Linked DNA regions of Homo sapiens: region 1 is linked to region 2. Evidence: fine-mapped expression QTL. Tissue or cell type: monocytes. Region 2 holds a variant in brackets; the other region holds the start of a gene. All regions are shown on one strand. Distances are from middle to middle. Region 1 holds the start of SYT1 (synaptotagmin 1). Region 2 has its middle 220 kb from the start of SYT1.

Evidence for each region. PIP is the estimated chance that this variant, and not a neighbour inherited with it, causes the effect.
Region 1: SYT1 starts here. The variant in region 2 is the best candidate, but not a certain one, in a credible set for the expression of SYT1 in monocytes (TOPMed, PIP 0.79).

Annotation. Positions count from the first base shown.
Region 1 is chr12:78,862,615-78,867,013 of GRCh38, forward strand. It overlaps SYT1 (synaptotagmin 1), which reads left to right and starts at 2,160. Exons shown (of 11, transcript NM_005639.3): 1 at 2,160-2,495. RefSeq lists a silencer at 944-1,003.
Region 2 is chr12:78,646,029-78,650,427 of GRCh38, forward strand. No RefSeq gene overlaps it. Among named protein-coding and RNA genes, the nearest start is that of SYT1, 220 kb to the right of the region's middle. The variant A/G (reference allele first, on the strand shown) is at 2,397.

The DNA.
Region 1 (4,399 bases), 220 kb after region 2:
ACTGGAATCTAGAAAGTATGCTAGGCATATATTTAGAATAAAGATCTATATTAAGTGGATATTATAATAATCTTCTCATCCAAAGATATTTATTGGACAACAAAATTACAGGGTTACTTAATTCTTCTTCGTCTTCTCTTCCTCCTTCTTCTCCTTTTCCTCCACCTCACCATCCTCCTTCTCCTCCCCTTCCTCCTCCTCCAACTTCTTCTACTTTTTATCCTGTCGTTTTTCTTCCTTCTCTGTCTTCTCCTCCTCCTCTCCTTCACTAAATAACTGAAATAAAATTTAGACCAAATTCTTTTATCTTATTTCTCCAACTATGAAATGATTTTAAAATAAGGTTTGGAGACTATTTTGGAAAATGGAAAGTGAATATTTACATGAAGTCACAAGTCTGGGGTGCATTATTTTCACACTTCTACCTCTAATGTTAAACTTCCTATTATTCAAGCATAGCCCAAATACAAGTGTTTGTCACTTAGAAGGATATATTTATATCACGTTGCCTTCTTTTCCCGTATACTTAGAATAAGGATCTTAATCTTAAACATTACATAAGTAGAAGAGATTTAATTAAAAACTTGAAGAAATGTGTTACTGTTAATTGAATTCTTGCTACATTTACCTTTGCACACCAATGTTAATAAAACTCCAGTTCAAAGTGGATGGGTTTGGGGAATTGAGATAGCTATTTATTTCCCTACCTGAGATGCCAAGATAATCTTCTCAGTAAAATAAAGAACCCAATTAGGAGAGTTCTCATTTGTAGCTATTGATCAAGTTTACACAAAATGCTAGGATTTCTAAATAAAACAAATAAGAGGTTCAAAGGCCTTTAAACGAGGTTGAGGGAGGGAGAAAGGGAAATAGTTCTCTCCGTTTTGAAATCCTTTCACCTGTGGAGCAGATAATGGACGGGCCCCTCTCCCAGCTGGGCTCCGCTCCCGCCCCTAGCCTGGCGCGCGGTCCCTTCCCCCACCCGCTGAGCCTTCCTGTTCGGTATTTCGGTATTACCAAGCTATAAATTGCCTGAGAGCTTAGAGACAATCAGGTCACCACCGCCCTCACAAGAGAAAAGCTTCTTACTTCCGAGCAGAACGGTTCAGCTGGGAAGAGAGGAAGCAGGGAGAGAATCTATGCTTTAGTCGTCACTGCTCTGGCAAGGGGTCGAGAGAGATGGGGGAGGGAGGTGGCAAAAAATAAAAATGAAAAAATAAAAAAGCATCTCCAACAATGTTGCACTTGACCCAAGTGTACAAACTTATTGGTCGCTGCAATGGAAACTCCCAGTGCACTCTCCACGGCCTGGCAGCCGCCGCTGATGGGTGGAGTCGCGCTCCCGGCCCCACCTATGGGACGGAGCTGCTTCTCCCGCATCTCGGCTCCACCGCACCCTTCGCGGGAAGTCCCCAGGCTTCCAGCAAAGCTCAGCTTATCCCGCCCCCGCTTCCAACCCGGAACCCCAGAAGAACAGCATGATGAGCCTCCGGCAGCCAGGTGGGCCACCTCCCCGCGGCTCAGTTTGAGGACACTTGTGCGGAACCCTTTCACATCCCCACCCTACCCAGCTTTCACAACTCCGCCGGGTTAAATGGCCAAAGACAAACTTCTACCTCTCCTGTCCCCGGTCCCAGCTTTTCAAAAACCCACAGCTGGCGAACCCACACACATCGAAACTCCTAGGTCGCTGTTGCAGTCTGGGCATGCTCAGTATCAGGGTAGGTTTTGATTGAGAGTAAAAAAAAAAAAAAAAAAGCTTTGTATTATGCTCTCTTTCTCCTGTGCATACTGCTTGCTGAACAGCTTGTGGGGCATTCCTGAGTCTACCTAGAGGTTTTATCAGACGCCCTTGATTGTGTCTCCTTGGGATCTGTTCCCCTCTTACTTCACCCCCTCCCCCAACCCGCCTCCACCCCGCTTCCCAGGTCCCTGTCCGCTGTGGGGATGGAGAGACACTAACAGAACTGGGATGGGCGATGTTGGCTGAACGGATCCACCTATTATTAGTGCGCGGGGATTGGCTCCTTGGCGCAGCGTACCCGAGGTGGAGCCAATCAGGATGCTGGGGCTCGGAGATGATGGGCGGCCGCCTCCTCACTGGAGGGATTCCTGGAGAAGCTGCAGTGTGGGGATGCTCTAGACCGAGTACTGCCCCCAGTGTCTTTCCACCTCCTCCTGCAGCAGCGGCAGCGGCAGCAGCAGTTAGCAGCGGCAACTTGAGGCTGCACCCCGGGCAAGTCCCCAGGGTGGTGCTCAGCCGAGAGGGGGGCTTGGCGCCCCGAAGGGGTGTGTGTAGGGTGGGGGCGACCACGTGGGACCAGCTGGTGGCCCTGGAAAACCTCCCACACACCCACACCCACACACCCCTTTTGTGTTGCAGGCTGCCCCTCCAAGAGCGGAGGCAGCGAGAGTACGCGTGTGCCTCGCGCCGGTCCACGCGGGGAGAGCACTGGGGACCGAGACCCGGCACCACCTCCCGGTCCGCCCTCCAGGTAAGGAAGCGGGACTGGCGGCGCGGCCACCTCGGCGGTGCCTATCTGCTCGAATCCATCCCAAAGATTTTCTTCTCGATACACTTGGGTTTTAGTGGTGGGAGTCTGAGACCTAGGGAGGGATCCCCGGGTGGCCTATTGTGAGAAATATGAGACTACATGTGCATCTCCTGGAAAAGCACTTTGCACAGCGCCCGTGATTTAGAGCCTGGAGTTGATGTTGGGCATCCCCCATCTTCTTGCTTCCTCTTTCCTTCTCTTGTTCTCTCTCCTCCGTCCCCCACCCCCAATCTCAATCTTTTCTCTCTTTCTCTCCCACACCTCCCCTCTCGCCCTCCTCCCACCCTAAGCACGCACAGCGTTTCTTTCTCCTCCTGGAGAGGATTGCCTTTCTTAGAGGAAAGAGGGGGAGTGAAGAAAGGAGAAAGATTTCTTTCTGTTGGGGAGAGGGATATGGGGGGGGGGGGGAACGTAAACAAGATAGAATACAAGCTCTGCGAAAATCAGAGCACATAAAGCAATTAAACTGAATAAGGGGAGTAGACAACCAGTCCAGCTTGGGCTGTCAGAGAGAGGAAGCGTCAAGTTTGACTTGATTTCCTCCTTGCAAGAGTCTATGTCTCTCACTTGATTCGTTCAAATGGAACAAAAATAAACCGACAATCCAACCCACTTTCAACTGCTTAATTGCTTTTGCTTTTGAGTGCCAACCATCTGACTTTTCCTGTTTCCATCTGTCCTGTGGGGCTAACAATTTGGTATTGCACATCAGTGTTAATATCTGAACTTTGAAAGCTTTCTTGAGTAACAAAAAAAAAAAAACAATTAAAATAGATTATTACTTTCCTGAGGTTTCTTGGTATGGCCTGTTGTTGGGGGATCAAAAAATGTAAAGTTTCAAAACATTTGCAAGGGACAACAATTTTATAGGGAGGCTTGGATTTCTACTTTGAGAAAGCTAATCTTCTAGTTAGCTTTGTGTACATGTTGATATTCACTTTCTCCAGTATTAACCCTTTCGTGAAATAAAGCAACTGTTTAACTTTTGTATGGAAGCTACATTTGTGTAGAATTTTCACTTTATTCTACCTTTGTACTATTTGCATTTTATTGTCTGGATACCAAACTTATGCCTGGCTTTATTTTCTTTTAATAGGACAATATTTAATGGATGTAAACATGATGTTTATACAATTTCAGCACTCCCTTTAGAAGGCACATGGAGGCTCAGTTGGACAAGAATCCTCCTGTACTGGAACTAAGTTTAGAAAGTAATGCTAGAAAGATACCCTAAATTTTAAAAATCCTGAAGGGGAAAACATTTTTGTAACGTCTTGTTAAAAGAAAGAAAAATATATCAAAACACCAACATGCCCCTGGCTGCCTGCATAATAGGTCAAGTAAATGGTACTTGTTGGACAGAGCCTTTACAGCAGCTTCAGCAGTCTCTAATTCCATCATTGGGGATATAAGCTTTCTTTTCTTATTATTCTTCAGGGACAGCTAAGCGATAGTACTGTCAGATGGAAGGAGGTATAGAGAAATGCCTCGTTTGATGTAATAGGAAAGCATTCCAAGTGGGTCTTACCTGAACACAGAGAAATCCACAGATGTTAGTATACAAAACACTTCTTTTTATTTATCAGGGGAAATGCAGAGTCTTACTTTTTTTTGTCTAGAACTCCACTTGATATAAGAAAAGAGAATCTTCTATCTTAACTGTGTCTGACCTTCCACACTAATTTTGTATCTCAGAGAGTATTTTTTCACTACGTACGTTTAATATATAAGTTTACACACCAACTTAGAGAAGAGCTGAATTCATTTGCCATCAGTGTAATGTGTACTATTTTCCAAACCATTTTGCATTTGAGGCAATGATCTCTCCCTAAATAGAATTACCA
Region 2 (4,399 bases):
CCTACTTATAGCAAGAGAAGTGGCTGTCAGTTTCCAGTTCTATTGGGATCATTGTTTTCCTGTGTCATTCAGCTTTTATTGCACAACACCCAATCGCAAAAATCTCAGTGGCATACAACAAAAGTATTTACTTCTCACTCATGTGTTGCTTATTAACTGGAGTTCGGCTGATTTAGACTAGCCATTGCTAGGCTTGGCTCCAGGCCATACTTAGAGTTTAGATCTTGTCCATATGGCTCACATTTTTCTGGGGATCCAACAGCATACCTGGGGCATGCACATTCCAGACACATTTAAGTCTTTGCTGTTTCATGGCCACTGAGATCCCATGGTTCACAGCAAGTCATATGGCCAAACACAAAGTTAAAACACTAGGAAATATCTTTTTTTTCTACTATGAGACCATGATAAGGCTGTGAATGTATACATTATCTATTACAAGAGAACAGAGAATTGAGAGTATAATCTGCCATATGTTCTAAGCACACATTTTTGTTGCTGAATCTTGGTTGAGCTTCAAATCCCTTTTTTTTGCTGCTGGAGAGTATTTCTCAAGTCTTCCTGTTGATTTGAAGAGCTGCTTGATACCCTCTAGCAAACAGTTACCTTTCAGGTCATATGAAATCATATGAGCACCTGGGAGAGGGTTTTGGGGCACAAAGATGAGGTCCTCAAATGACATCAGGAGGCAGTAGCCTAACTTATACCTGAGTATAACCAAATTCTGATTAATAAATCTCTGTGATACTCTCATCAAATATTTTATTGTGGGAAACTGATCATTGTGCAGGATAGGATATTTTTAGGAATGTAGTTTTAAAATAACGAATATAATCTTTGTTAGGACACGAGAATTTTTTTCATTTTGAATCACTACCTAGTAATATATTTTAACCAAGTTTTCACCATAATATTCACTTTTACAAATATAAAAGCTATAATCAAAGGTATATGTATTAGTCCATTCTCATGCTTCCATGAAGAAAATACCAGACTGGGTAATTTATAAAGGAAAGAGTTATAATTAAATCAAAGTTCCATAGGGCTGGGGAGGCCTCAGAAAACTTAACAATCATAGCAGAAGGGAAAGCAAACATGTCCTTCACATAGTGACAGGAAGGAGAAGAATGAGAGAAGGGCAAAGCAAAATGGGGAAAAGCCCCTCACAAAACCATCAGATCTCATGAAAACTCACTCCCTATCATGAGAACAGCACAGGGGAATGGCCCCCATGATTCAATCACCTCCCATGAGGTCCCTCCCCCAATACATGGATGTTACAATTCAGATTACAATTCAAGATAAGATTTGGTGAGGATACAGCCAAATCATATTATTCTGCCCCAACATGTGGGGATTACAACTGAGATAACAATTCAAGATGAGATTTGGGTGGGGACACAGCCAAACCATATCATTATACCTGATTTTTAGTTGCTATTATTTTCCTATTAGAAACCAAATTTGGGGAGGCATCTCCAAATACTAACATTGGTAAGTAAGATATAATTGAGTAGCAAACAGCGGTGGTTTTTTATTTCTACACAAAGGTAATACTCCTCTTCATTGCTAAGTATGTAACTGATATTTTACAAGTTTAACATTTAAAAGAATACTTCTCCACCTGAGAGTTGACAATATGTATTAGAAACAGTAGAATGCTAGTTAACAATGAAATATGGAAACGAAGGCCTGGAAGGAAGGTTTCTAATATTATGTGGGGAAAACAAACAAACCTGATGATCAATCAGTGTGAATTATTATCAGTGTTCTTCATTATGGTTAGAAAGTTGAGCATTACAGTTAATTCACCTGCACATCTGTGACTGCTAGAGGGAATTGAAAGCACCACTGTCTATCCAAAAAGAAAATAGCCTTTAGAAATACTTTGTAATGCCAGATAATAAGGTGATATGATTACAAGCTAATAGACTCCATTACAGTACACAACACCACTTTGGGTTCAGCCTGATATTCCTCTTCTCACACTCCAGATGCTACTCTACTACCGAATTATCTCTCTCTTTGTATTGTTAGTGTGCAGATTGACTGTATTGTGTGTGTTTAATTTTGTTCTAAAAATTTTTTGTGAATTATGGTTTAAGTTATTACTGGGTATCTGAAAAGTAAGTATAAAATCAATGCTTTGTAAGCTCTGGGAAAAATATTGACTAACTTCTAAGGAGATTCATTGTTGTGGGAAGTCAGGGACCCCGAACGGAGGGACCGGCTGAAGCCATGGCAGAAGAACGTGGATTGTGAAGATTTCATGGACATTTATTAGTTCCCCAAATTAATACTTTTATAATTTGTTACACCTGTCTTTACTGCAATCTTTTAACATAAATTGTGAAGATTTCATGGACACTTATCACTTCCCCAATCAATACCCTTGT[A/G]AGTTCCTATGCCTGTCTTTACTTTAGTCTCTTAATCCCATCATCTTCGTAAGCTGAGGAGGATGTATGTCGCCTCAGGACCCTGTGATGATTGCGTTAACTGCACAAATTGTTTGTAGAGCATGTGTGTTTGAACAATATGAAATCTGGGCACCTTGAAAAAAGAATAGGATAACAGCAATGTTCAGGGAACAAGAGAGATAACCTTAAACTCTGACCACCAGTGAGCCAGGCGGAACAGAGCCATATTTCTCTTCTTTCAAAGGCAAATAGGAGAAATATTGCTGAATTCTTTTTCTCAGCAAGGAACATCCCTGAGAAACAGAATGCGTCCCTTAGGGTAGGCCTCTAAAATGGCCACTTTGGTGGGCAGCCATCATTTATGGTCGAGCTGTAGGGATGAAATAAGCCCCAGGCTCCCATAGTGCTCCCAGGCTTATTAGGACGAGGAAATTCCCACCTAATAAATTTTGGTCAGACCAGTTGTCTGCTCTCAAACCCTGTCTCCTGATAAGATGTTATCAATGACAATGTGTGCCCAAAACTTCATTAGCAATTTTAATTTCACCCCAGTCCTGTGGTCCTGTGATCTCACCCTGCCTCCATTTGCCTTGTGATATTCTATTACCTTGTGAAGCACATGATCTCTGTGACCCACACCCTATTCATATACTCCCTCCCCTTTTGAAAATCACTAATAAAAACTTTCTGGTTTTATGGCTCAGGGGGCATCACGGAAACTGCTGACATGTGAGGTCTCCCCCGGACACCCAGCTTTAAAATTTCTCTCTTTTGTACTCTGTCCGTTTATTTCTCAGGCCAGCTGACATTTAGGGAAAATATTATTTATTTATTTATTTATTTATTTATTTTTAATTATACTTTAAGTTTTAGGGTACATGTGCACATTGTGCAGGTTAGTTACATATGTATACATGTGCCATGCTGGTGCGCTGCACCCACTAACTCATCATCTAGCATTAGGTATATCTCCCAATGCTATCCCTCCCCCCTCCCCCCACCCCACCACAGTCCCCAGAGTGTGATATTCCCCTTCCTGTGTCCATGTGATCTCATTGTTCAATTCCCACCTCTGAGTGAGAATATGCGGTGTTTGGTTTTTTGTTCTTGCGATAGTTTACTGAGAATGATGATTTCCAATTTCATCCATGTCCCTACAAAGGACATGAACTCATCATTTTTTATGGCTGCATAGTATTCCATGGTGTATATGTGCCACATTTTCTTAATCCAGTCTATCATTATTGGACATTTGGGTTGGTTCCAAGTCTTTGCTATTGTGAATAATGCCGCAATAAACATACATGTGCATGTGTCTTTATAGCAGCACGATTTATAGTCATTCGGGTATATACCCAGTAATGGGATGGCTGGGTCAAATGGTATTTCTAGTTCTAGATCCCTGAGGAATCGCCACACTGACTTCCACAATGGTTGAACTAGTTTACAGTCCCACCAACAGTGTAAAAATGTTCCTATTTCTCCACATCCTCTCCAGCACCTGTTGTTAAAAGAACCTACATGAAATATTGGGGGTGCTTTTCAAAATACTTTGTAATGCCAGATAATAAGGTAATATGATTACCAGCTAACAGACTCCATTATAGTACACAGCACTGCTTTGGGTTCAGCCTGATATTCCTCTTCTCACACTCTAGATGCTACTCTACTACTGATTTGTCTCTCTCTTTGTATTGTTAGTGTGCAGATTGACTGTATTTTGTGTGTTTAATTTTGTCCTGAAAAATTTTGTGAATTACGTTTAAGTTATTATTGGGTATCTGAAAAGTACGTATAAAATCAATGCTTTGTGAGCTCTGGAAAAAATATTGACTAACTCATAAGGAGATTCATCATTGACAGAGGTAGTCAGTGGCCTACACTCATGTCACCATCACCACAAAATAGCACTGCTTCTCCAAACTGCATTTTTTTTCTGAAAGAGTAATTCCTTGTGGCAAGTGATATGCTCCATGAAAGCT